Linked DNA regions of Homo sapiens. The protein of the gene in region 4 purifies or fractionates together with the protein of the main gene of each other region. This does not show direct contact. Each region holds a gene or a part of one and is shown on either strand. Other genes may lie near its edges.

Region 1 (3,387 bases), on a different chromosome or scaffold from region 4:
TTTGAGCATTTCACATTGAGTTGAAAAGAACTGACATAGTGAGAATGGCACTACTGAAGCACCAGAATAAGTAATACACGTGCACCAATGTAAGCCTCATTTGAATATCTTTGTAAATTATAGTGACTATCTAATGAATCCTACTTACTACAGTACATTGATAAACATAGCTTATGTTATTCAATCTTCCCCCTTGTAGTCCTGACCTCTATTAAAAATGTCCCTAAATTTTTTGCCATCTAATTCTTCTTAAGACTTTTTCTCCTCTGTCACTGCTGGATAAGAAAAGTTTACTTCACCATATTTGTGATAAGACTATGCAAAGTTTAGTCAGTTACTATTAACAGATAAGAGTCACTTATAAAACTGGAGAAAAACTGTTACACCATTGCTTTCAAAACTGACAACTATAATATTTAAGAAAATCCTATTTTATAAAACAAAACCACCTTTTCTCCTTAAGACATATGTTTAAGGGAATACAAACCATAAAATCTAAAACCATATTAACCTGAATTCATATTTTAAAGAAAATAAAATTTCACTGTACCATTCAATGAAAGAAATACAAACCTCATGATGTTTCCAAAGAGATTTCCTATGAGACACAGTGAAGAGAGTGATGCCAACCTAATACAAAGAAAATGATTTAGGTTTAATGAGTAACAGAGTCACAAATTAAACTAGTCCATGTACTTTAAGCTGTTAAGAGGACAGTCTTCAGTGACTAAAGTTAAAAAGCAATGTCAATGAGAAAAAATTTACAACTGGATGCAAAATGTTTATAGCAATGGAAAGTACTGGCCATCAACCACATAATAAAAACTACCAGGTACTGGCATTAAGTGTATTATTTTCTTTTGGGCAAAAAACATATCTCCTATCATGTCTCCTATTTTATTGTGAAAAATATATGAGAGGAATATGAGAAGGATAAAAATAGCCAAAGGTCAAAATCAGGAAAAATTAAATCAGTATAGCATTGTTGACAGTCAACTTGCTTTTCAAATACAGGGTCATAATCCCCTACCGTAAACTACTGTTTTGGAATGTGTCTTGGAATTCAGATTTTGAAAATGTATTATTTAACACCCCCAGAGAGTTCTGAGGCAGAATTTTATAATTAAACACATAAATGTTTCTGTAGCAACACACATGGACACTGATATTGAGACATATAGAGTTTAAATATCTTTTGTTAGCTTAGGCGAAGTTTTACCCAGTGAGCTTGCTACAAAATTATGAAAAATGTTTTAAATTTAAGCACTTTCTGGATTTCAGATTGTGAATACGTATTTATAGATCTGTACTTCAGATTTTCAAAAAAAAAAAAACATTAATAGATAATAGCTGTAGTTGCTCTAGATCAGTGGTTCTCAACCAAGGTGGGGAGGTCAGTGATATTTGTCCCTCAGGGGGACATTTGGCAATGACTGGAGGCATTTTTATTTTCACAACTGAAAGCACTACTGCCATCTAATGGGCAGAGGCCAGGGATGCTTTCTAAACATCCTCCAGTGCACAGCAACCCTCAACCCTGCCCAACTAGGAATTAACAGTGAAAAGGTCAATAGTGCCAGGACTGAGAAACCCCACTCTGGGTCACTGTTCCTCCAAGTGGATCACTCAAGGCTGGCAAATGCATGCTTAGGGCATCTGGGAAATTTCCACCATGGTTTCTTAATTTTATTTTCATTTTGATGATAATTTTTAAAAGATCATTATAAGTATATTCTAGATCATTTTTACCATGAGATTCAAGTTCCTCGGTTTGTATCTACACCTCTGATTGCCAAAGTGATATAAAATAAAACTTCTAATGTGTAATAAGTTTGGCTGCACTGTAAAAAGGTTCTTAAATTGGTTAGGAATTGCATAATAAAATAAGCATATTATCAGTATTAATAAAACATATATTTCAACCATACCACACTTTTCTGATTTTTCAGAGCTCATTTAAGATATTATTTCTCTGTTTATGATACTACAATAATTGGATTAGACATCTACTTAATGCACACATTCTTTACATGAGGATATAAAAAATATATGAAGTATATAAGTCAAAATAAAAAGCAAAATGCAAAATAATGAAATTTGAACCTCAGATTCTATCTTTCCTTAATTAAATCCCAAACCACTGGTTTAGTTTCATCTAAACGGTATCATAGGTCTCTTTAATGTTGTAAATTTGAAACTGTATTTAAGTTTTGTCTGTATTTAATGTATTTAATGTGTAAGTTTATATTAGTTTTGTAGCTGTAAAAGAGCTCTAAGCTTAAGGAATTCACACCTCATCATGTTTATACATGTTTAAGTGGTATCACAGTAATTTAAATTATCAATGAGGCCCCATATGAATTTTCTTTTAAATGGAACTGATGTTTTATAGAATTTATACAGTCTTATGTGGGGACTTCAAGCCTATAGCTAGAGCATAAGAGGAAATCACGTGGTCAAAATTACCAGCAAAGAGCTGCTATGTCATTGAATCAACTGCAGACTACATGGTTTTATGTACATGAGAATACCATAAACATCTCTAATACCTATATATTTGAAAACCAACATGAACAAATGTATAATTATATATTACCAAAGCAAATTCAAGAATAGAAAATAAATCATTAACAAGATAAAATCAGTAGTTAAAATCTTTCTACAAAGAATAGCAAATTCTTTCATCATCACGCCAGTGCTTCTCAAACTTTAATGCGCATTTGAATCATCTTAGAATTTTGGTAAAATGCAGATTCTGATTTAGCAGGGCTTGAAATTCTGCATTTCTAACAAACCCCTAGGTGACACTGCTGCTGCTGATCATGAACACACTTGGAATAGTAGGAATTCATAATATATATACTCAATATGACCTTTTTTATTTATTGAGAACTCCCAAAGAACACATACAAAATGTTAAAAATCCTCATCTACCTCATTTACTTATATAGAAACTATAAAACAGCTAGGATATACTACATTTGTTCCAAAATTTAACCATAGTATAGATGTTGGTAACAATTTCTCAAAGAAAGAAAACTGATACTATTGAATAATTACTTAAAGAATGGAACCAATAAAGATAGCCTCAGACTTAGCTACTAAAAGCAGCTTTGGTAAAATATTGCTCAGGCTAGAAAATAAAACGGATAAATTAAAAATTGCCAAATAATTATTGTTGAGTTTTATTCATAAAAAAACTCTAATGTTTAGATAAAGTTAATGGAAAAATTAAGAAAAGGTCAGTTTATTAACTCTAAGTAATGAGGTAAAGTGAAATAGATTTAAATACGTTGTTTTATATAAATGAGGTATCTTTTATATCTTTTATCTTTTATATCTCATTTATATAAAACAACATATTTAAATATATTTCCCATATATAAA
Region 2 (3,500 bases), on a different chromosome or scaffold from region 4:
TATTCAAGGAACTTACGCCTTCTAAGGCTTTTAAAGCCATTGTAAAGATGCAAATACACAATTCCTACGGAAAGCTTTGCTCTCCACTGAGCAGAGTGAAAACTCAGTAAGTTCAATTCTTGATTATGATGAGGGCATGCAGATTCTTCACAATCTGGCCCCATCTTACCATTCCAGCCTTATCTTTCTCCCCTCCTCAGCCCCATCCCTCCCACCCTCTACATAGTCACATCTACACCTCCAGCTCCAGCCAGACTGATCTACTTGCAGCTCCTTCACTGCCCCACACTTTGTTCTTTCCAGACCTTTGCACTTAATGCCCCCTCTGCTTAGAAAGTCCATTCTCCACGTATATATGCCTGAACAGCTCCTACCCATCCTTAAGAACATGGCTCTAACAGATCTTCTGGAAGCCTTCATTGACTGGCTGCTTACCCCAAGCTGGGCCAGGCCCTGGGCTCCTCCACACCTGTGTATACATCTAGTTGTAGACTGCTCACATCACACTCAACTCTCCTCTCCATTTTACTCACTCTCTCCACATCTCCCTTAGACTAGAAGTTCTTGCAGCAGGATCTGCTTTATATCTAGCACAATGCCTACACAACAGGAGGTGAGAGAGAAAAGCAGCCCCTGACTGTCGGGAACTGACCCGGCACACACAGCCAGACTTGGTGTTCTAACATAAATGCAACAATTTCAAAGAATGCCAACATCAAACAAGGTCACTCTGTCACCAGGATATGAAGACAAAAATAAGACTACTCTGGAATCATATCTGAACATAGACAAAAACATGAACATCACCCAAACCACAAAATGCCCAAACATCTTCCTATCGTGGCTAATATGAAGCATTGCTGCTTCTTTATCAATTACAGCTTTAGCCTTACTCCATACCTCTTGCCTTTTCGTTAAGATTTTAAATATCCAATTGCAGAATTCCCACTCCTCCTTATTCCTGAAGCACCCGAGACTGAGCAAAGCTTTGCTTCCTTGAACTCTTCCCCGAATCACCTAACATCATCTCGAATCTTCTAAGTCCTTTCTAACAACCTGTTACAGAGACCCCCAACGTTCCCTAGGACAGGCATTCTCCTTCATTGCAGGGAGTTAATAAGACCAACTTTGTTCAACTAGAGGTATGTTCCTGGCAGTCTTTGACTAGAGGGCACTGACAGTGTTTAATAAATTTCACTGAATAATTGATTATTAAATGTCATAAGATGTTTGTAAGCACATATATAAGTGCCTAGAAATTACAAAATAAAATTAGAACATTAAATCCACATCTGTTGATACACACAATAGTAAAACCAATGACACGCTGTCATGTTTAAGAGCACGTGTGTAGTATAATTCTACTTGATAAAATAAATAAGACCCCCATATATGTATCTATCCAGTGTGTACACATGAACAAAAAGAAAAGTGTGGAAGGACACACACCTGGCTGTAAAATTCGTTATCTTACCATGTAGGACTAAAAGGAGGAGATGATTAGCTTTGCCTTCACGCGTCTTTGTGCTATATTGTTTTACTTGATGTATTAAGTCTACGTTCATTTTCAATAGAAAAAAAAATGTTTCATCACAGGAGGAAAACTACAGCTTCTCATCTTTCACATTTCAGTTCAACGTTCACTTCCAAAAGCCCTTTCGGCTTAAAACGAAGCTGTCTAGTGGTCAAAAGTATGGACCCTAGAGCCAGACTACCTTGGTTTGACTCCTGACTTTACTACTGACCATTATATCATCCCAGGCTAGTTTCTTTTTTTTTTCCTTAATTTTTTTAACTAATACATAATAATTGTACATGTTTATGGGGTATGTGTAATATTTGGATTACATGCATAGGATGTGTGATGATCAAATCAGAGTATTTAGGATATCCATCACCTCAAACTTTTCTCATTTCTTGGTGCTGGGAACATCTCAAATCTTATCTTCTAGCTACTTTAAAATATACCATAAAAAATAAAATACACAATAAACTGTTAAGCATAGTACCATGCTGCTGAACACTACAGCTTACTCCTTCTACCTAACTGTATGTCTGTACTTATTAACCAGCCTCTCTTTATCACTCCCTGTCCCCTGGGGTAGTTTCTTCACCTCAGTGTCTGAGTTTCCCCATCTTCAAATAACTGCACAATTACATGCAATGGGATTAAAATAATACCTAACCCATATGAAGCCAATAAATATTAGCTGTTTTACATAATAACAGAATATGATCATTTCTTAACCACCCTTTCTTGGTTGATTCTCATAACCTGGATTGTTCTCTATTATGGAATCTTTTTTATTCCTTCATAACACTTTACTAAACTTGTAATTTACATATTTATGTTTTTTAAATTTGTCTTTTTTTTTTTTTTTTTTAGCTACACCTGCTGGAATGGGACATATTTACCTGATTAATAGCTGTCTCTCCCACTAGGATATAAGCTTTTAAAAGGAATGAATTATTTTCTTTCGTTCTATACCAAATACCCAACACTTAGCTTAATAGCTGGCCCATACAAGACACTATATTTCTTGAATAAATGGACATCAGTTGAATCTAATGTCCACAGCACTTTCTCTCTAATGGGAATATAAGGCTATACATTCTTTTGCACAATTAGCAAAAAAATTAATGTCTTGCCACCCGTTTTGAAAATGGCAGATGTAGCCAACAGCAATGTCAGAACAAAAAATTTATGTTGTAGTAAGTCCATTTTTAGAACTTGCCAATTTAATAGGCAAAATCTCTAAATGTATTCAAAATGCTTTCACCAAAAGGCCAATCGGTTAATAGACGCACCCTATAACTTTTCTCCGGTTACAGACACAGTGCATGAAAGCAACAATAGTGCCATGCTGCCCAAGGCTTACTTATTTCTTATCCTCCAGATACGACACAGTAAGTTCCTGAATGTGGCCCCTCCCATGGTTCTCTATCTCCAGCCCCTCTTCTCCTCCTCCCACTTAAGTCTCCAGCAACAATCACCCCTGTGCAGTCCCCAGAGCCTACCCTGGTGCTGACATTCCTGGGCCTGGGTGGCAGCGCTTGCCCCCTCCACACAGAGGCCTAAGTGGTCCTCCTGAATCGTGTCTTCTTACAACCATTCTGTGCTCAAAACATCCCAACGGTTGTCCTCTCACTCAAAATCCCAGATCCCTACCAGGGCCAAGGCCTTGCTTGATCTATTCCACCCCTTCTCCACCTCCCTAAGCTCAACTCTTGCTGCTCCTTCTCCTTGACTCTACTCAGGCCACAGTGACTTTCTGTACATACGTCACCTGATCAGAGCTTCTCTGACCACCGTGTATAAATGGTGTATACCATTTATACGTGTATAAAACAGCCCTCTCCCCCTCTACTATATCCCCCTTCCACAGCCCTACTTTAAAGGTCTTCTTTATAACACCTAGCATCACTCCACATACCACATACTTTGTTTTTGGTCTGCTTCCCCTAGCCAAACAAATGTAGCTCAATGAGAATAAAGACTA
Region 3 (3,500 bases), on a different chromosome or scaffold from region 4:
ATATTAATTTGTTCATAAGGGAAGGACATCAGCAAAACTGGGTCCTTGTTCCCTGCTTCCATCTCCAGGTATATTTCTATGATTCTTTCTCACCTTACCCTTACCCTCCACTTGCATCCTTCTCCCAAAAAACAAAATAAAAAAGACTGCCTAAGGCCAGCCTGACCTCATTAGGATGTGGCTCAGCTTCACTGCTGCCATCGACAGTGGTGGGTATGCTGGGGTTGAGCTGAGGGCCAGACTATTAACATGCTAATGTCAGGGACTAGAGAACAGAGCTCATCTGTGTTCTCTTGGCAAGCCTCCTTTTCCTGCCCACTGTTCAGCCAGGAGGCTCAGGACAACAGGGGGCACCTCAGCTGCTACACTGAGGTACTTACCCTATTTCTACCCTCATTTCCACCCTAAACCTGTGTAAGAGGAATCATGACTTGGCTCTGATCAGGGTTGGAAAAAATCCTCTCAGAACCCAGGCACAGCATGGCTTCAGAGTCCTTCACAATCCCCGTTTTATCTTCTCAAACATTCTTTATTTGGGGTATTGTAAATGGAACTCAGTCTTAAGGGTGTGGGTATTACCCCCAGTTGCTAAGGATGAAGGACAATATATGGGAGTGGCCCAAGAGAACAAGATACAGGAGTTAATCCAACAATCTCCACCTTCAGCCTTTAATCCATCATGGAAGTGGGAAGTGGTGTGACATTGTAGAGGGAAGGAGGAGGTGGCAGAAATCACTGGATATGCATGGATTTGGAGTCAAACAGACCTGGTTTGAACCCTAATTCTGTCACTCACAACCTGAAACTTGGGCAAGTTATTTCATTTATTTGAACCTCATTTTTGATATCTATAAAATGGGCCTAATTGTAAGTCTAGCATAGGGGTATTATGAAAATTAAAGGAGATGATGGATGTAAGGTTCTTGGTATGTGTCAGTGCTCATAAGTAATAGATCCCTTTCCTGCCTCAGCAGTACTTTGTGCAGAGAGATGCCGACATCAGTTCTTGATTGCTGCTCAAGTATATTTTCTTGCCAGATGCTGAGCACCTTAAACCCTTTAAGGGCAGATATAATATTGACTTCAAACTTTGTGTCCTCTGTGCCTCACACAGAGGAAGTATTCAATCAATGGTTGGTTGTTTTGGTTTTCTCTTCTAGGTGGTGAAAACTATTGGCTTGAGGGAAGTTTGGTTCTTTGGTCTGCAGTACCAGGACACTAAAGGTTTCTCCACCTGGCTGAAACTCAATAAGAAGGTAACTGCTTATTCCTCTGTTGGATTTAGAATTCTTTTCTTTTCCAGAACATTCCTGGGAGGGTACCATGTGCTAGTTGGCAAATCCTGGATACCTAGGGCTGTGTTTGTGACTGGGTGGTCTGTTGACCACTTGGATCAGAATAAGGACCGAGGACACAAGCAAGGCAAAGCTCTTGCTCTGTCTCTACTTTGACTTCTAACAGCGACAATGGCCAGCATTCAAAGAAGAAGAGACTCTTTTCTTTCTAATGGGAACACTAGCTTGAACTTTGACTTGTTTTGGATCAAATCCATTAGTGGCTTTTCAAGAGAGGATTGGTATCCCCTTCATCTCTCCAAACTCAATGGCTTTAGGGGATTTGTGTTTTTTTTGTTTGTTTGTTTTTGTTTTGTTTTGTTTTTGACGGAGTCTCGCACTCTCGCCCAGGCTGGAGTGCAGTGGTGCCATCTCGGCTCACTGCAAGCTCCGCCTCCTGGGTTCACGCCATTCTCCTGCTTCAGCCTCTCGAGTAGCTGGGATTACAGGTGCCTGCCACCACGCCCGGCTAATTTTTTGTATTTTTAGTAGAGACGGGGTTTCACCGTTTTAGCCAGGATGGTCTCGATCTCCTGACCTTGTGATCCGCCCGCCTCGGCCTCCCAAAGTGCTGGGATTACAGGCATGAGCTACTGAGCTTGGCTGGGGATTTGTTAAAAAGAGCCACAGATTCTTGAACTAGAAAAAAAAAAATCTGAAAGATCTTACAGTCTTATGCTGCACCTTCTCCAGCAGTCAACTAATGTCTGAACCCCATATAGATGTTTCCCTCTTTCTTGATCTTTTACCTCAGTTGGACCCCAAATGGGATGGTTTGAGTCCATGCAAGCTCTCCACCCCAAGCAGCATCTTCACGGGAACCTGGCAGCCTTCCATCTTCGTATCCTCAAACTGGCTGGCCTTGTCCTTAGAAGTCTCCATACTGTCCTGCAGTTTGCTTCTCTGATTGTGTCTAGGGAGTAGGTACCCCACCTTCTGCTGGTAGAGTCTTGTTTTCCTAAAGAGTTGAGTCTTTTGCTGGACAAGTGTGGAGCCACTAGTATTCCATTTCAGGCTTTAAAAAATGGTCTAATTTGTGCTCTTGTTTAGCCAGTTCTCAGTCCTCAGACATATATCCTAGTCCTTACTTTGCTAATTTATGAAGTTGGAGGAGACTTATAAGACGAGCTTAAAAGAAGAGCTTATGCCTACTATCAGAATTTGGGGATAGTTGGATATAGTCAGATAAAAGTGGTTTGAAGATTTCTGATCATCAGTCGGTATTAAGGTAATTTCAGGAAGAAATTCCCAACAGAAAGTGATTACAGACATGGGATTCAGTCCCCAGTGAAAGTAATGTATTATTTTTCTTAATTACCAGGGGAGTTGCCACCCAGCTGTCTAAGATTATGCAAATTGATGATCTTTCAGTGTTTTCTCCCCACCCTACAGCCACTCCATTACCCTTAAAACCTATTTTTTGAGAGTCCATAACCCTTACTCTTCCCAGGTGACTGCCCAGGATGTGCGGAAGGAAAGCCCCCTGCTCTTTAAGTTCCGTGCCAAGTTCTACCCTGAGGATGTGTCCGAGGAATTGATTCAGGACATCACTCAGCGCCTGTTCTTTCTGCAAGTGAAAGAGGGCATTCTCAATGATGATATTTACTGCCCGCCTGAGACCGCTGTGCTGCTGGCCTCGTATGCTGTCCAGTCTAAGTATGGCGACTTCAATAAGGAAGTGCATAAGTCTGGCTACCTGGCCGGAGACAAGTTGCTCCCGCAGAGGTGAGGTGGTTCCCTGCCCTCCTTTGCCTTGGCCATAAGGGGCTGCAGCCCACAGCTGACCAATCCCTGCCTCACAGGGATGCCAGATCTGTTCTTCTCCATTGGGGTCTGTCTGAAGACTGTGTTATGCTGCTCAAGAGACATTTGCATATAGTGTCAGACTCTGTTGTTGTTTTTCTGGCTTTCCAAATAAAAAGCCTTTTTGTTTTCCCTCTGTCTACCTGGTTACAGAACTTTATTACCCTGGAGGCAGGTGCTTATATAGAACCAGAGATTGAGTAATTTCTTTCACCCATCCCTGGTTCCATTTTCTCAGTTCTTTTTACTGATTTAGATCTCTTATATCAGAAGTTCACAGGGGAGAGAGAGAAATAAGCAAACCGAGGACATGGGGAGCTCAAATAGTCTTTTAATATTGACAGCTAGTGTACAGAGCTTTCC
Region 4 (3,500 bases):
TTTTTTTTTTTGAGACAGAGTTTCACTCTTGTCCCCCAGGCTGTAGTGCAATGGTATGATCTCGGCTCAATGCAACCTCCGCCTCCCAGATTCAAGCGATTCTCCTGCCTCAGCCTCCTGAGTAGCTGGGATTACAGGCATGTACCACCACGCTCGGCTAATTTTGTATTTTTAGTAGAGACAGGGTTTCACCATGTTGGTCAGGCTGGTCCTGAACTCCGGACCTCAAGTGATCCACCCACCTCGGCCTCCCAAAGTGCTGGGATTACAGGCGTGAGCCACCATGCCCGGCCGGAATCAAAGATTTTTAAATACTGTCACTATGCTTCCAACTGTCCAACTTCCAAAGTACTGAGAAAATATTTTTTGAAATGTAGCCAAGTATAGAATATAGACTGTGTCCTACATTCAAAAGTTGTCTTTCTAGAAAGCATGTTTTAATGGCAAAGGATACAAAGCAAGCTGTAAAAAGAGACTAAAATTAGCTCAAACCACAAATAACCTAACATACTTATCACTTCCTTATGATCAACCTACAAAAATCAAACTTTAAAGGCACTTACAAAACTAAAGGTGGGAGGCCAACTGCACCCTTTAACTTCGCTATACCTTTCCTCCTTCTAACATGGACCCTGGCACATAAACACTGCCAAACGATGACACTGTGTTAACGTGAAGGCAAGCACCAGGGAAACTACGGGAGCACAGTTTTGCCCTGTAAATAAAACAGCATGTACCATGCAGTTCTTAAGTGGTTAGAAGGGTAACTACCTCCTCAAACTGAAGATGGGAAATGCAGATGAAGGCCCACACCCATCTTCAGCTGCATTTCACAGACAGCTAAGGACATACCACGCTCCCACTTCAAACAAAATATTCTTCCATCTTCTAAAGCCATCTATTTCCTACTTTCAAAAGCAACATCTTCCAAATCTATTGGGAAACCAAAAGTTTGTTACCATTCGAGTAGTGGAACAAGTTGCAAAATGAGGTTTAGTTGACAAATATGTATTCATGGGTAAAAAAAAGGCACTGGGTTTGTTAAACTACATCTACTTTTTCAGTGATTCTCTCTCTGAGTGTATTAACTATGTCTGATAAGTTTTGTGATAAATTTTTTGGAGAAACTTCAAGCTCACAAAGGATGAAAACAAGTGGTTAAGGATGAGTACAGAACCTACCAATACCACTGTGCACACTCCAATACTGTTACTCAAACTTTCAAAAGCATTTTCATTAGCAGGTAGAGAAATAGGGGCAAGTAGCAGACCTGGGTAGTTATTTGTGGTGTGAACAGACCAAACAAAATACTGATAATGGCACTAATATTCCTAAGATTTATTCAAGAAAAACTGTCAGTAAGACATGAAGGAATATTTAGAAATGCTCAGAAATGACACCATGATAGGTACATAAAGGGCCCATTGAAACCCAGCATTCTAGGGATGTGGATTCTCAAGGAATATTCAAGAGCAACCTTTAGGTGTGGCTAAACCAGGTTGTATTCTGGGGACTGCTCCAAAAATTTGGTTTTATGCTTGTATAAACCTGATGTAGCTTAATGTAACTTTCTGATCTTGGCCCCATTCTGCCTCACCCCACCTCGGAGCATGATCCTTAACACTATGGCAACAGGGAGGTGGCGTCCAGGTAGTAGAGAACAATAAGAGTAATGCTCTTAATTCAAAAGTGCTGTCAAGATACAGTTCAGTTCAGAGTAAAAACAACAAAGCAAAACAATGACAACAACAACAACAAACCAAAAAATGACATATTCTCTCCCTGCCCCGAAAAAAAAATTCACTGGGTACCTTCTTAGAGGCCTCTTTTCTCTGTGCAAAAGTTAGCCACAAAAATATTTATGACTCAGTGAAGGCGTATTTTCCCTTTATCCTTACAGAAGCAAACTAAGCCCTGACTATTTGAAAAGTGAAACAGTAGTTAACAGCGACAAATGTTCAAACATCAAGGAGAGTTAAAGCTAATTTACCATGTTATGCTAAATGCAGTTTGCTTATTTGTTCTCTTGAGTGAAGTTATATTCAGAAGTGACTTCATCCTTAGACATTTTTAAGTAACTCACGTTCTTAAGAGAACTCTATTTGGAATAATTACTTGATGTTCACTTTCCTGTAAGAAATTCGCAATAGTGTACAATCCTGTAACCGGGGCCCATCTGGATAAAAATTAGCTAAGCTGTTTGCTGTAATGTAACGTAGTGACTTTTAAGTAAGATTCTGCAAAAGGAAGAGAAGTGCCAATAAAAGATCCATTAAGAAAGGAAAAAAGTCGAAAAACGTTTCTTAACAGAGACAAGGGAAGAGTTTTCCTTTTCTAATCACTAAGAAATTTTTAAAAATTATTTTGAAAGCCTAGTTTTGCTATGCTCATCTTATCTTTGCAAGTGATGTTGCTCACCCACAAAAGCCACAAACACAGCCGAGGCTTCCTTCTTCATCTGTAAAAGTAAAATATACCTCAGTCTCTAGGAAGAAACATCTGAAAAGTAAAGAGAAGGAGACAGGGACACAAGCCTACTTGGGACCCAAAACTTTACTTCAAGTGGTTAATCCTCAAGAAGGATTTAGAATTTCCCAGCACTAGATTCAGAGTAGTAAAGAATACGTTTATTTCCCAGAGAAAATGCAGACCTTAAGTGTCCCTTTGCCATGTTTACTCTGAGTCCATATTACAGAGCTGACTTCAGAGCACTAATTCTATCTAATTACCATAGGGTATCCATAAAACCTTACTGCCTTAGTAAAACCATAAGCACTCAGTAAATCGAACGATGTCATACGTTTTTCTCTTAAAAAAAGGGCTGGGCCGGGCACAGTGGCTCACACCTGTAATCCCAACACTTTGGGAGCCTGAGGCAGACAGATGGCTTAAGCCCAGGAGTTCAAGACCAGCCTGGGCAACACAGCAAAATCCCATCTCTACTCCAAAAAAATACAAAAATTAGCTGGGCGTGATGGCACATGCCTGTAGTCTCAGCTACTTGGGAGCCTGAGGTGGGAGGATCACTTGAGCCCAGGAGGTGGAGGTTGCAGTGAGCCAAGATTGTGCCACTGCACTCCAGCCTGGACGACACAGCAAGACCCCATCTCAAAAAAAATATTAAAAAAATAAACTTTAAAAGGACTGAAAATCATTTATAAGTACTTGGTATTATTTTATTTGTAGTAGTGTGACTTGTACCAAAGCCCAGAGATCAATAGATTTGATGGCTACAGTTTTCTTTGGCTGTTTCAGGGCAGGAGGGAATCTTCCATGTGAAATGGTCTTATTTTCAGTTTTCATACAATCAAAATTTACAAGCTGTCAGCAAGATACTCATGATTATGTCAAGCTGCTTTGAAAAAGGAGAGGGCAGCAGCTATTAAACTCTAAAGACCATTTCTACACAAAGTAAAGCATTATTTCTAAAATGCTGGAGACTTAGGTACTTTCTTCTCAAATATGGCAGATGTGTAAACTATCATATTATTCAAATGAAA
Region 5 (3,500 bases), on a different chromosome or scaffold from region 4:
GAAACCCCGTCTCTACTAAAAAAACACAAAAAATTAGCCGGGCGTGGTGGCGGGCGCCTGTAGTCCCAGCTACGCGGGAGGCTGAGGCAGGAGAATGGCGTGAACCCGGGAGGCGGAGCTTGCAGTGAGCCGAGATTGCGCCACTGCACTCCAGCCTGGGCGACAGAGCAAGACTCCGTCTCAAAAAAAAAAAAAAAAAAAAAAAAAAAAAAAAAAAGAATGCCATTACTAATGAACATCCATGTTAGTTCAACACAGTGCCTGTTAAACAAGATACAATAAAATATTTTTAATGTATTAAAGTAGTAATTATTTGTAAACCAGCAGGACTCTTTTGTAAACATTTTTTATTGCTAATATTGAAAACCCTGAGCAGAAAAAGAAGAAATGGCTTTTTCAGAATAACCCTCCTCTAAAATTAGTTGACTCAAATCAGTTCTCCCTATAAGTTTCAGCGATCTCTATATGATCTGCACTACCTAGAAAGTGAGGAAGAAAGAGAATATAGTATATCAACAGAAACAAACGTCACTCTTTTTTTCTCTTTAACCTTCAGAAAAAAAAATCTTCTTTGGTTAGACTGCTCTCCCAAAATTGAAATAAATGTGAAATCCTATTCTTAAATTAGCAGAGATATAATTATCAAATCTGAGAAATTGGACTGTATTAATAAACTGGGGAGAAAAGTCCTTTCTCAGACATTTGAGGACAACTGGAGTTGCACATTCCACCGACATCCTCACATATCTGGCAAGTTTGACATAATACTGCCCTGGCTTTACAGAAAAATATTTCTCTAAAGAGCTCTAAGTACTTTCAAACACTTGTCATTTATCTTCACAATATCCTAGTGAGGAAGGTTAGTGCAGATAACTCCTATCTCCACCTCAGAGATGGAAAAACTGAAGATCTGAGTCACTGGAAGATTAATCCAGTAAACTGGCAGTCTGACAAGGGCAGAAAATAGAACCAACTGCCAGGCCAGTGATCTGGTCATGCTCTCTTTAGTTATTAACATAAGAGCCTGAGAAAGAATAAGAGTCCATGAAGATACTGAACCTGTCTGTTGAAGGAATACCCTGAACAGAGTGAAGAGGCTCATATATGAAGTCTACTCATATCAACTTAATTATTCCCATAACTTGGAGGAAAGTTTTCTCAGTCTTCTCTTTAATGTTAAAAACCACTTTGTGAGCAAAGGACATGAACACACACATCAAAAGAAGACACTGATATGGTTTGGCTGTGTCCCCACCAAAATCTCATCTTGAATTCCCACGTGTTGTGGGAAGAACCCGGTTAGAGGTAACTCAATCATGGGGTCAAGTCTTTCCCGTGCTGCTCTCACAATAGTGAACAAGTTTCACAAGATCTGATCGTTTTAAAAAGAGGAGTTACCCTGCACAAGCTCTCTCTCTCTGCCTGCTGCCATCCATGGAAGATGGGACTTGCTCCTCCTGGCCTTCCACCATGATTGTGAGGCTTCCCCAGCCATGTGGAATTGTAAGTCCAATTAAACTTCTTTCTTTTTTAAATCAACCAGTCTAGGGTATGTCTTTATGAGCAGCATGAAAACGGACTAACACAAACATATATGTGGCCAACAATCATACAAAAAAAAAAAAAAAACAACTCAGCATCACTGATCATTAGAGAAATGCAAATCAAAACCACAATGAGATATTATCTCACACCAGTCAGAAGAGCTATTATTAAAAAGTCAAAAATAACAGATTCTGGCGAGGTTGTGAAGAAAAAGGAATGGTTATACACTGTTGGTGGGAGTGCAGATTAGTTCAACCATCATGAAAGACAGTGTGGAGACTGCTCCAAGACCTAAAGATATAAATACCATTTGACTCAGCAAAATCCCATTACTGGGTATATGCCCAGAGGAATAGAAATCATTCCATTATAAAGACACATTCACTGCAACACTATTCACAATAGCAAAGACATGGAATCAACCTAAATGCCCACCAATTATAGACTTTGATAAAGAAAAATGTGATACATAAACACCATGGAATACTATGCAGTCATAAAAAAAGAACAAGATCATGTCCTTTGCAGGGGCATGGATGGAGCTGGGGGCCATCATCTGTAGCAAACCAACACAGGAACAGAAAGTCAAATACTACATGTTCTCACTTATAAGTGGGAGCTAAATGATGAGACACATAAGCACATAGAGGGGAACAACACACTGTACGGCCTATCAGAAGGTGGAGGGAGAGGAGCAGGAATATAGCTAATGGGTACTAGGCTAAATAGCTGGGTGATAAGATAATCTTTACAACAAACTCCCATGACACAGTTTACCTACGTAACAAACTTGCTCATGTACCCCTGAACTTAAAAGTTTAAAACAACCACTTTGTCAGAAAGATAACCATATTGCCTATTTTTTTATTACAGATGATTGGAAAAAAAAAAAACAACCTTTGTAGAAATTAGTGGTAATGGTAACTACTTCTGATGTCTCACTTATGAGATATTCTTAAGGCTTAATTTTTATAAAGAACAAGAATATAAAAAGGTGTATTATTTGACTAGCACTCATACCCGTAGGAGTGTCAAACAGGTCATTTAATTCAAATTTTGACATGCTCTGTGTAGACCTAGCACTGCTCCAAGTTAAAATATATTATTAACTTTAATATTTGAGTGGGTTGACTGTCACATAAAATCCTCATGATCATTTAACGTTCTCACCCTAACCCCCGCAAAATCCCCAACCTTGAAAAACTCAGATACTACAACTCCTTGAAGACAAATAAACCTACATGAATAAAGACAAAGCCATTAAAGCCTTTCTCAGACATACTAGCAGCGGCCAGGTGTGGTGGCTCACGCCTATAATCCCAGCACTTTGGGAAGCCAAGGCGGGCGGATCACCTGAGGTCAGGAGTTCAAGACCAGCCTGGCCAACATAGCGAAACCCTGTCTCTACTGAAAATACAAAAATTAGCCAGGCGTGGTGGCGGGCGCCTATAATCCCAGCTACTCGGGAGGCTGAGGCAGGGAGAATTGCTTGAACCCGGGAAGCGGAGGTTGCAGTGAGCTAAGATTGTGCCACTGCACTCCAGCCTGGACGACGTAGCATGACACTGTCTCAGAGAAAAAAAGAAAGAAAATACTAGCAGCAGTTCTCAAAGTTTGCTACTCAGACCAGCTAAATCAGTTAGAAATGCAAATCTTTAGGCCTCACTCCAAATTAACTAAATCAGAAACTCTGGGCCTGGGACCCAGTAATCTGTGTTTTATCACGCCCTACTGGCAATTCTGATATACTAAAATTTGAGAACTACTGCTCTCCCAGAAAAGTTGGCAATATTAAAAGCAGGTCCCCTCTTGGCAACTTGACAGAGAAAGTGACCTAACCATAGATTACCAGTTCACGCCCCTTACCTCCTGCACCTCTCGGGTTGGCTTCTCCCTTGCTGTGTTGTAACCTTGTGGAGAATGTGCCACCTGGGTCACATTTTGCTGTTCTGCTG
Region 6 (3,500 bases), on a different chromosome or scaffold from region 4:
GCATATATTATGAAGCAGCAGAATACTGTATGTGTGAAATAGAAACTCAGCTTGCTTCTAGAACCCCCTGTCAAAACAGATGCATCTGCTTTTGATAAGTACTTAGGTGGAAAAGTACTTTTATCTATTTATTTATTTTGAGACAGAGTCTCACTCTGTCACCATGCTGGAGTGCAGGCAGGATCTCGGCTCACCGCAACCTCTGACTCCCTGGTTCAAGCGATTCTCCTGCCTCAGCCTCCCAAGTAGCTGGGATTACAGGCAAGCGCCACCACGCCCAGCTAATTTTTGCATTTTTAGTAGAGACGGGGTTTCACCATGTTGGCCAGGCTGGTCTTGAACTCCTGACCTCGTGATTTGCCTGCCTTGGCCTATGCTGGGATTACAGGCGTGAGATACCGTGCCCGGCCGAGAAGTGCTTTTATTTTAAATATGTCAGGTAGGTAGGTGTCCTGGTGTTTGTCTTTTGACAAAGGCTAACTAGTGTTCCCAATACAACATTGTGGTTCTCAAACTTTTTCTAAAATGTGGACTAGGCCGGGCGCGGTGGCTCATGCCTGTAATCCTAGCACTCTGGGAGGCCAAGGCGGGTGGATCACTTGCAGTCAGGAGTTGGAGACCAGTCTGGCCAACATGGTGAAACTTTGTCTCTATTAAAAATACAAAAATTAGCCAGAGATCACTTGAACCCAGGAGGCGGAGGTTGCAGGGAGCCAAGATTGTACCACTGGACTCAAGCCTGGGTGACAAAGCAAGACTCTAAAAAAAAAAAAAAAAAAAAAAAAAAAGAATAAAATACAATAAAATAAAATATGGACCAAATGACCAGACCCCCCTCATGCTACAAAATTTTAAAACTATCAACAACTTGGATTTCAAGAATTCTAGAGATGAAGTCAGCCACTATTGACTATAAACACAAACTTCAAACTTTCTAACATGTATTTTTAGAAACATACTTACCATTTTCAAATTACATTAGCTTATCTTGTTTTAGGATGCTACAGAATGTCAACTTTATTTTCGTGAAGAGCACACAAAATACTCACATTCTCATATTCTTTCACTTGCTGAATGTATAAGCTCTACTAGAAGGGCTGTGTGTCAGATTATAAATAATACGGCCACCATCTTTATATTTCCAGTTTAATGTTCAGTAGTTGAATTAGATATTTGAAGACTATAAATCTGGCATAAAAAAATAGGTAAGATCCTGCAATGTTCAGTTTTTTAAGAAGTACTTACTGGTTTAAGAGCTAACTCAAACAATCTGAAAGTGCAACCCCAATTATTACTTTTAAGGTTTGAAGTCTACATACCTTAGTTTCTGTTATCATGCCATCAAAAGGACAAGAGTACACTGCTATTTTTGCATCTTTGACAGATGTTACATCACCTTCGGTTTCCTTCTTAAAAACCATGCCATGCAATACTGAAGAGGAACTGATACCAGAGCCCTAAGGAATTGAATACCAAACTCATCAGCAATCTCCTGAAAATAACATTACGGTCAAACTGTTGATTCTCCATATACCAAAAATATCCCTTTCTAAAATAAAGTCATAAACCAAGGCAGTGACTCCTGGGATAAGGGGTGGAGTGGTGGACATACAGCACACCCTTCTGCTCGAGGCAGAAATCACTGAGGGAATGAGCTACTTTTAGGGAGGGGAGGTCCTTCCATGTACTGGGAAGAACCAAAGGCAGAGAACTGGTCTTAGCCATTCAGTTACCTAGTACTTGGTGCCAATATACCAGCCACAGCTGTCAGTACTGCAAATACAACACAGAACAAAGCAAAGATTCTGTTCTCACAAGGTTGCATTTAATGGGAAAAGCTGGCAGTACGTGGAGGGAGACAGCAAACATAGAACACGTGAGTATCTTCAGGGAAAGCACATGTACTTATGTTATGCTAAATTCACATTAACAATCAGAATGCCAATGTGCAAAACCAAAACCATTCCACTGATAGGTTTTACTCTATCAAGCACATTTTATCAAAAATATACTTTAATATTTCAATACTAACATTAAAGTGTGAATTCTATTATTGAAGAGGAATAGGACGATTTCCACCCCACTCAAAACTGTCTTATAAGCTTATTATAATTCAGAGTATTATGAAGAACACAAAAAAATTAGTATTTTGCGCTGGGCGCGGTGGCTCACACCTGTAATCTCAGCACTTTGGGAGGCCAAGGTGGGCAGATCATGAGGTCAGGAGTTCGAGACCAGCCTGGCCAACATGGTGAAACCCTGCCTCTACTAAAAAAATACAAAAATTAGCTGGACATGGTGGCATGCACCTGTAATCCAGCTACTTGGGAGGTTGAGGCAGGAAAACCACTTGAACCTGGGAGGTGGAGGTTGCAGTGAGCCGAGGTCGAGGCACTGCACTCCAACCTGGGCAACAGAGCCAGACTCCATCTCAAAAAAAAAAAAAAAAAAAATTTAGTATTTTGTTTATACATTATTCTTAAACCCACAAGACATCACAGAAAATGACTTTATAAGGAGATAATATGTCAATATCCTTTTAAACTTAAATAGGTAGTAGTATTATTACAACTTAGCAACATCAAAATGTTACAAAATAATGCCTCAAAGGCCAGGCACGGTGGTTCACGCCTGTTAATCCCAGCACTTTGGGAGGCCAAGGCAGGTGGATCACCTGAGGTCGGGAGTTCGAGACCAGCCTGACCAACACGGAGAAACCCCATCTCTACTAAAAATACAAAATTAGCCGGGTGTGGTGGCGCATGCCTGTAATCCCAGCTACTCGGGAGGCTGGGACTGGAGAATCACTTGAACCGGGAGGCGGAGGTTGCGGTGAGCCGAGGTCATGTCATTGCACTCCAACCTGGGCAACAAGAGCGAGACTCCGTCTCAAAAATAAATAAGTACATAAATAAAAATAATGCCTCAAAAAAAGTCCTAAGTGTTCAAATCATGAAGTAACATTTAGGTTTAGATGAACACATTTTTTTTTTTTTGCACAAAAAAACAAAAAAAGCACACAAAAAAACTGACCTAGATATGTAGCATTAATGCATTTTCTACTTACCAGAATTTTACAAACTCTGATGTTATCAACATTGAAATGGCCGGAATCAGGAAAAATAGATACTGTTAAGAAAATGAGACATATCAAAAGATTATTTTGGGACAACAGAGAAAGTATCTAGTCATGTTAAAGGTATTTTTATTTTGGATCTTTTCATTTACTGATATTTACTTACCGCATGCCTGAGCAATAAGCTTGGCCAGAAATACTTCATTACCATATTGTTTACTCATTATGGAGGTACGAAGTAGAGATGAGACTTCATCAATATCTCGAAGGTTTTTTGCAGAACAACATACCAAATTAGGAAGAATCTCATGAGCTTTTCTGCAGGCTATTTCATAACCTTCTATGACCTAAAACATAAACAACATTTCCTATTCTGACATGACTTAAAGTAGCTTATTTTGGTAACCCAATGCATATGGATGTT
Region 7 (3,500 bases), on a different chromosome or scaffold from region 4:
CCAGGTCGGGGCAGCACCAGCTGGTCTTGGCACCTGCAGGGATTGGAGGGGCAGGCCCTTCACAGTTCTACTCACAGGTCCGCTCTGCGCGGGCGAACTGTCCTGCCACGATCCAGGAGAGCATGGTGACTGCTGCCACAGCCCCCACATGCAGGAATGGCGCTGTGCCCTGTTTGCAGGGAGAGGGAAGGGAGACCAGTAACGCCCAGCTCTGCCCAGACCCTGTGTCACCAGCCTCCTACTTCTACCTATGAGGCAGGCAACCCTGTCTCCATCTGCCAACTGGGGACACTGGGAGCCTCAGGACCCTGGTGTCCTCCCTAGTTCTGACCTGCTCTGTGACCCTGGGCGCCTCCCTGCCCTTCTTTGGGCCTTGGTCTGGAGAAAGGGAAGTGACAGAAAGGCTCTTGTTGTGAGGGTCCTGGGGGACCCTCCTCACTCACCTGCAGGGAGATCAGCAGCACCTCCCACTCGTCCTCCCACAGCTGGGCCACGGCCGACATGGCCACCACCGTGGAAGCCAGGATGACCACCAGCCCGATCTGGAGGGGGAAGAGTCACCGGACAGAGGCTCAGAGCGGGTGGGAGGGTTCCCAGTGTGTCTGAGAGAGGAGCCAGAGGGAGAGACAGAGAGGGCAGGAGAGGCCGATGGAGCAGGGCAGAGGGGAGGGAGGAAAGAGACAGGCATGGGCTGCCAGGAAACTAGAGGCCGGCAGATAGACACGGCAGGGAGAGACTGAGGCAGGAGGAGGCAGCAGGAGGCCGGCAGACCCAGCGAGGAAGGGACAGCGAGAAATGGAAGGGAGGATGGGGACAGGAGGAGGAGGGAACTGTGAGGAGGGAGGACATTCAGTAAGGGGGACCTCCCTGGGCCTGGCAGGTTAGTCACATCCAAGGTCCCGCCCAGCCTCCCTGCCACCTCAGCATGGCACAGCAGAGGAGGAAACCCACTTGTCCAGGCCATGCCCAGGCCTCAGGGGAAGGAGGCTGAGGAACTGGGTCTGCTGCAGGAGCCTGGAGTGCAGCCCAGCCTGGCACCCTGGGCTGGGCTCACAGTGGCACTTCAGGCGGGAGTGGGTGGTGAAACACATCGCCACCTGCCCCATCTCCACGGCCTGCCCTCTCCCGGACTCCCAGCATCTAGGTCCGCCGTGATGGGGGCCATCCTCCTTGCAGCCTCCAGAAGAAAGCAAAGCACAGCTCTCATGGAGGATGAGGTGGCACCTCTACGGGACAGAGATCTCTGGTGACAGGTAAGACCTGAAATCTTTAACCACGTGAAGCTCGGCAGAGGTTTTCGGCTCCTCGGCCCCCAGCCCCTCGCCCCTAGCCGTGGATCTCACTCCACCCACCCCCCTCCACACCCCCAGGCGTGCCTCCCCGAAGCCCAGGTTGTGGCTCTCCTCCAAAGCCTCCCGCAGATCCCAGTCTCTGGAAGGGTCAGTCAAAGCCGCCACCTCCGTCCCCCTAGTTTCTCCAGACTCGTCTCCCATCTCCCTCCAAAGGCCTGTCCTTCTCCCACAGCACTGCCGGCCGCCCTGCCTCCCTGGAGCCGTTCTAGCTGCTGGCAGGGCCTTCACCCCCTTTCTCCCGAGGCAACCTTTCCCAGAGGCAGCAGCGGCCAGGGCCCTCTGATGCCGAGCAGGGACAGTGGCATTTCTAGACGATGAGGGTGGGGCGGTGGCCAGCATCTCCGCTCCCTACCCAGGGACCTTCACTCGCCGGCGGGGAATGCTGAGTCTCGCCTGGGATGAAGTTTCCCTTTGGAGGCTTTTCATTCCAGCCCATCAGCCTGGAAACAAATGTTCCCCCAAGAGACCTGAGCGAGGCAGGTGAGGAGCTGGAAGGGCTGTGACATGGGGGCTCGGGGCGGGAAGAGGCATGGGCGTGCCTGGGCCTGTGGGGGCGCTTCGCGTGGTCCCCAGGTTGGTTCCGCGGAGGCACGAGCATCCTCATCTCACACACGGGAAGCGAGGTTCGGGGAGAGGAACAGCTGGCTGGGTCACGGAGCTTTGAAGGGGCAGAACCAGAAACGAACACCTTCTGCCCATCTCAGGGGGTAAGGGGGTGTGCGCTTTCTCGGACAGACAGCACGCTGGTGTCAGAGAGGCTGCGCAGTCTCTGGGAGGCCCAGCTGCGCCTCCGAACCCCTGAGAACCCCGCCCTCGGCACTCAGGCCCCTTCTCCCGGCTGCCCCCGGCGCGCAGCTCCCCCTTGTGGCCATCGTGGGAGGTGGCCCTGCACACAGTGAGTTAAGGATGGTTTCCAGGAGCATCTCATCACAATACCTATTAATGGAAACGACTTGCAATAAAACTGATTCCCCAAACCCTAATACAATTAAAAATGTTATTATCTCTGAGTTCCACAGTTGCTTTGGTGCTAATCAACACACTCAGCAGCATCACTGCATGTTCAGTGTCTGTGGGACTTCCCTACCTTGCATCATTAAGTTATAGCAATAGCACTGACACCCAAAAACGCAACCACCATCGCTCCTGAAATCTGACTGAGAAGGATGAATCCCACCCTAGAGGCCCAGAGACAGATCACCGTCCTCCTCTGAGAAAGTGGCCTTGGGTTCTCTGTCTTCATGGGACTGTGGCTTGTGATAGCCATGGTGGGTACAGGGGATACAACAGAGTCTTTCATTCATTCGATGAGTCTGGCCTAGGTGCCGGGACCCGAGAGGAGGTGGAACCCCGCCTTGCAGAGGTGCAACAGCTGGCCTCTTAGGGGTATCTGGCCTCTGGGTTTTGCAGTCCAAATGGCAGACAGCTGGCCCAGGGTTAAGAGCCTCACTTGAATCACGGTCTTCAGTCGAATCCTGGCTCTGCTACCTACTGGGGATCTTTCCACATCCTCTCCAGGGACCTTTCCAGAGCTGTGAAATAGGGATAGTGAGTACCTACCTGGAAGGGGGTTGGGGAAGATCAGTGAGGAAATGCAAGTGAAATGCTTAGTACAACGGCTGGCCAGAAGAAAATGCTTACTAAATCTCAGTGATATCATTTTAAAAAGTGAGCATGATATGGGAACAGGATTATTGTGAGGAGTGAAATGACTGTGAAATTCTGAGTGAAAGGTGCCTGACACATGTGGTCAGCACCCAATAAAGGATGGTTACTGCTGTTATGGTGAACGCAGTGCCTGGCACACACAGGAGGTGCTCAGTGAATGCGCCTTCCTTAAGCTGCTGCTGGAGGGACAGAGGCTGGACACCAGGAAAAACCATAAAGCTGGGGCCAGTGCATGGAGAGAAGTCTGAATTCACCAGGAGAGGTGATGAAGTAGACATAGCAGATGGCAGGTAGAGGCTGATGGAGCCTTGGTAGGAGGCAGAAGCCCCAGCCCCAGCCCAGCCAGTAACTTGCCTTGGGGCTGTGTGGTACCCAGTGCTCCTCTCTGGGGCTCAGGTTGGGTCGCTGACAGACGCCTCCTCTGTGCAGGTCCTGGGCTGGGGGCTGCTGCCACTGAGGCAGGGGAGTCAGGCGAGGACA

The links.
Region 1: the proteins of PTPN1 (region 4) and ABCD3 purify together in Homo sapiens (affinity purification with mass spectrometry; 3 studies listed by BioGRID and IntAct, with this or other methods). This does not show direct contact.
Region 2: the proteins of PTPN1 (region 4) and KIDINS220 purify together in Homo sapiens (affinity purification with mass spectrometry; one large-scale study listed by BioGRID and IntAct). This does not show direct contact.
Region 3: the proteins of PTPN1 (region 4) and MSN purify together in Homo sapiens (affinity purification with mass spectrometry; 2 studies listed by BioGRID and IntAct, with this or other methods). This does not show direct contact.
Region 5: the proteins of PTPN1 (region 4) and GOLIM4 purify together in Homo sapiens (affinity purification with mass spectrometry; 2 studies listed by BioGRID and IntAct, with this or other methods). This does not show direct contact.
Region 6: the proteins of PTPN1 (region 4) and CCT8 fractionate together in Homo sapiens (co-fractionation; one large-scale study listed by BioGRID). This does not show direct contact.
Region 7: the proteins of PTPN1 (region 4) and GDPD5 purify together in Homo sapiens (co-immunoprecipitation; one large-scale study listed by IntAct). This does not show direct contact.

Annotation. Positions count from the first base shown.
Region 1 is NC_000001.11:94,512,389-94,515,775, reverse strand, and holds part of ABCD3 (ATP-binding cassette sub-family D member 3), read right to left. Parts: intron 631-3,387; coding exon 574-630; intron 1-573. UniProt on the Homo sapiens protein: Broad substrate specificity ATP-dependent transporter of the ATP-binding cassette (ABC) family that catalyzes the transport of long-chain fatty acids (LCFA)-CoA, dicarboxylic acids-CoA, long-branched-chain fatty acids-CoA and bile acids from the cytosol to the peroxisome lumen for beta-oxydation.
Region 2 is NC_000002.12:8,831,114-8,834,613, forward strand, and holds part of KIDINS220 (kinase D-interacting substrate of 220 kDa), read right to left. Parts: intron 1-3,500. UniProt on the Homo sapiens protein: Promotes a prolonged MAP-kinase signaling by neurotrophins through activation of a Rap1-dependent mechanism. Provides a docking site for the CRKL-C3G complex, resulting in Rap1-dependent sustained ERK activation.
Region 3 is NC_000023.11:65,726,654-65,730,153, forward strand, and holds part of MSN (moesin), read left to right. Parts: intron 1-1,160; coding exon 1,161-1,256; intron 1,257-2,784; coding exon 2,785-3,059; intron 3,060-3,500. UniProt on the Homo sapiens protein: Ezrin-radixin-moesin (ERM) family protein that connects the actin cytoskeleton to the plasma membrane and thereby regulates the structure and function of specific domains of the cell cortex.
Region 4 is NC_000020.11:50,516,883-50,520,382, reverse strand, and holds part of PTPN1 (tyrosine-protein phosphatase non-receptor type 1), read right to left. Parts: intron 1-3,500. UniProt on the Homo sapiens protein: Tyrosine-protein phosphatase which acts as a regulator of endoplasmic reticulum unfolded protein response. Mediates dephosphorylation of EIF2AK3/PERK; inactivating the protein kinase activity of EIF2AK3/PERK.
Region 5 is NC_000003.12:168,033,425-168,036,924, forward strand, and holds part of GOLIM4 (Golgi integral membrane protein 4), read right to left. Parts: coding exon 3,412-3,500; intron 1-3,411. UniProt on the Homo sapiens protein: Plays a role in endosome to Golgi protein trafficking; mediates protein transport along the late endosome-bypass pathway from the early endosome to the Golgi.
Region 6 is NC_000021.9:29,063,649-29,067,148, forward strand, and holds part of CCT8 (T-complex protein 1 subunit theta), read right to left. Parts: intron 3,424-3,500; coding exon 3,243-3,423; intron 3,130-3,242; coding exon 3,068-3,129; intron 1,458-3,067; coding exon 1,320-1,457; intron 1-1,319. UniProt on the Homo sapiens protein: Component of the chaperonin-containing T-complex (TRiC), a molecular chaperone complex that assists the folding of actin, tubulin and other proteins upon ATP hydrolysis.
Region 7 is NC_000011.10:75,449,442-75,452,941, forward strand, and holds part of GDPD5 (glycerophosphodiester phosphodiesterase domain-containing protein 5), read right to left. Parts: coding exon of another isoform or gene 3,375-3,500; intron 2,891-3,374; exon of another isoform or gene 1,892-2,890; intron 1,793-1,891; exon of another isoform or gene 952-1,792; intron 543-951; coding exon 444-542; intron 170-443; coding exon 76-169; intron 1-75. UniProt on the Homo sapiens protein: Glycerophosphodiester phosphodiesterase that promotes neurite formation and drives spinal motor neuron differentiation.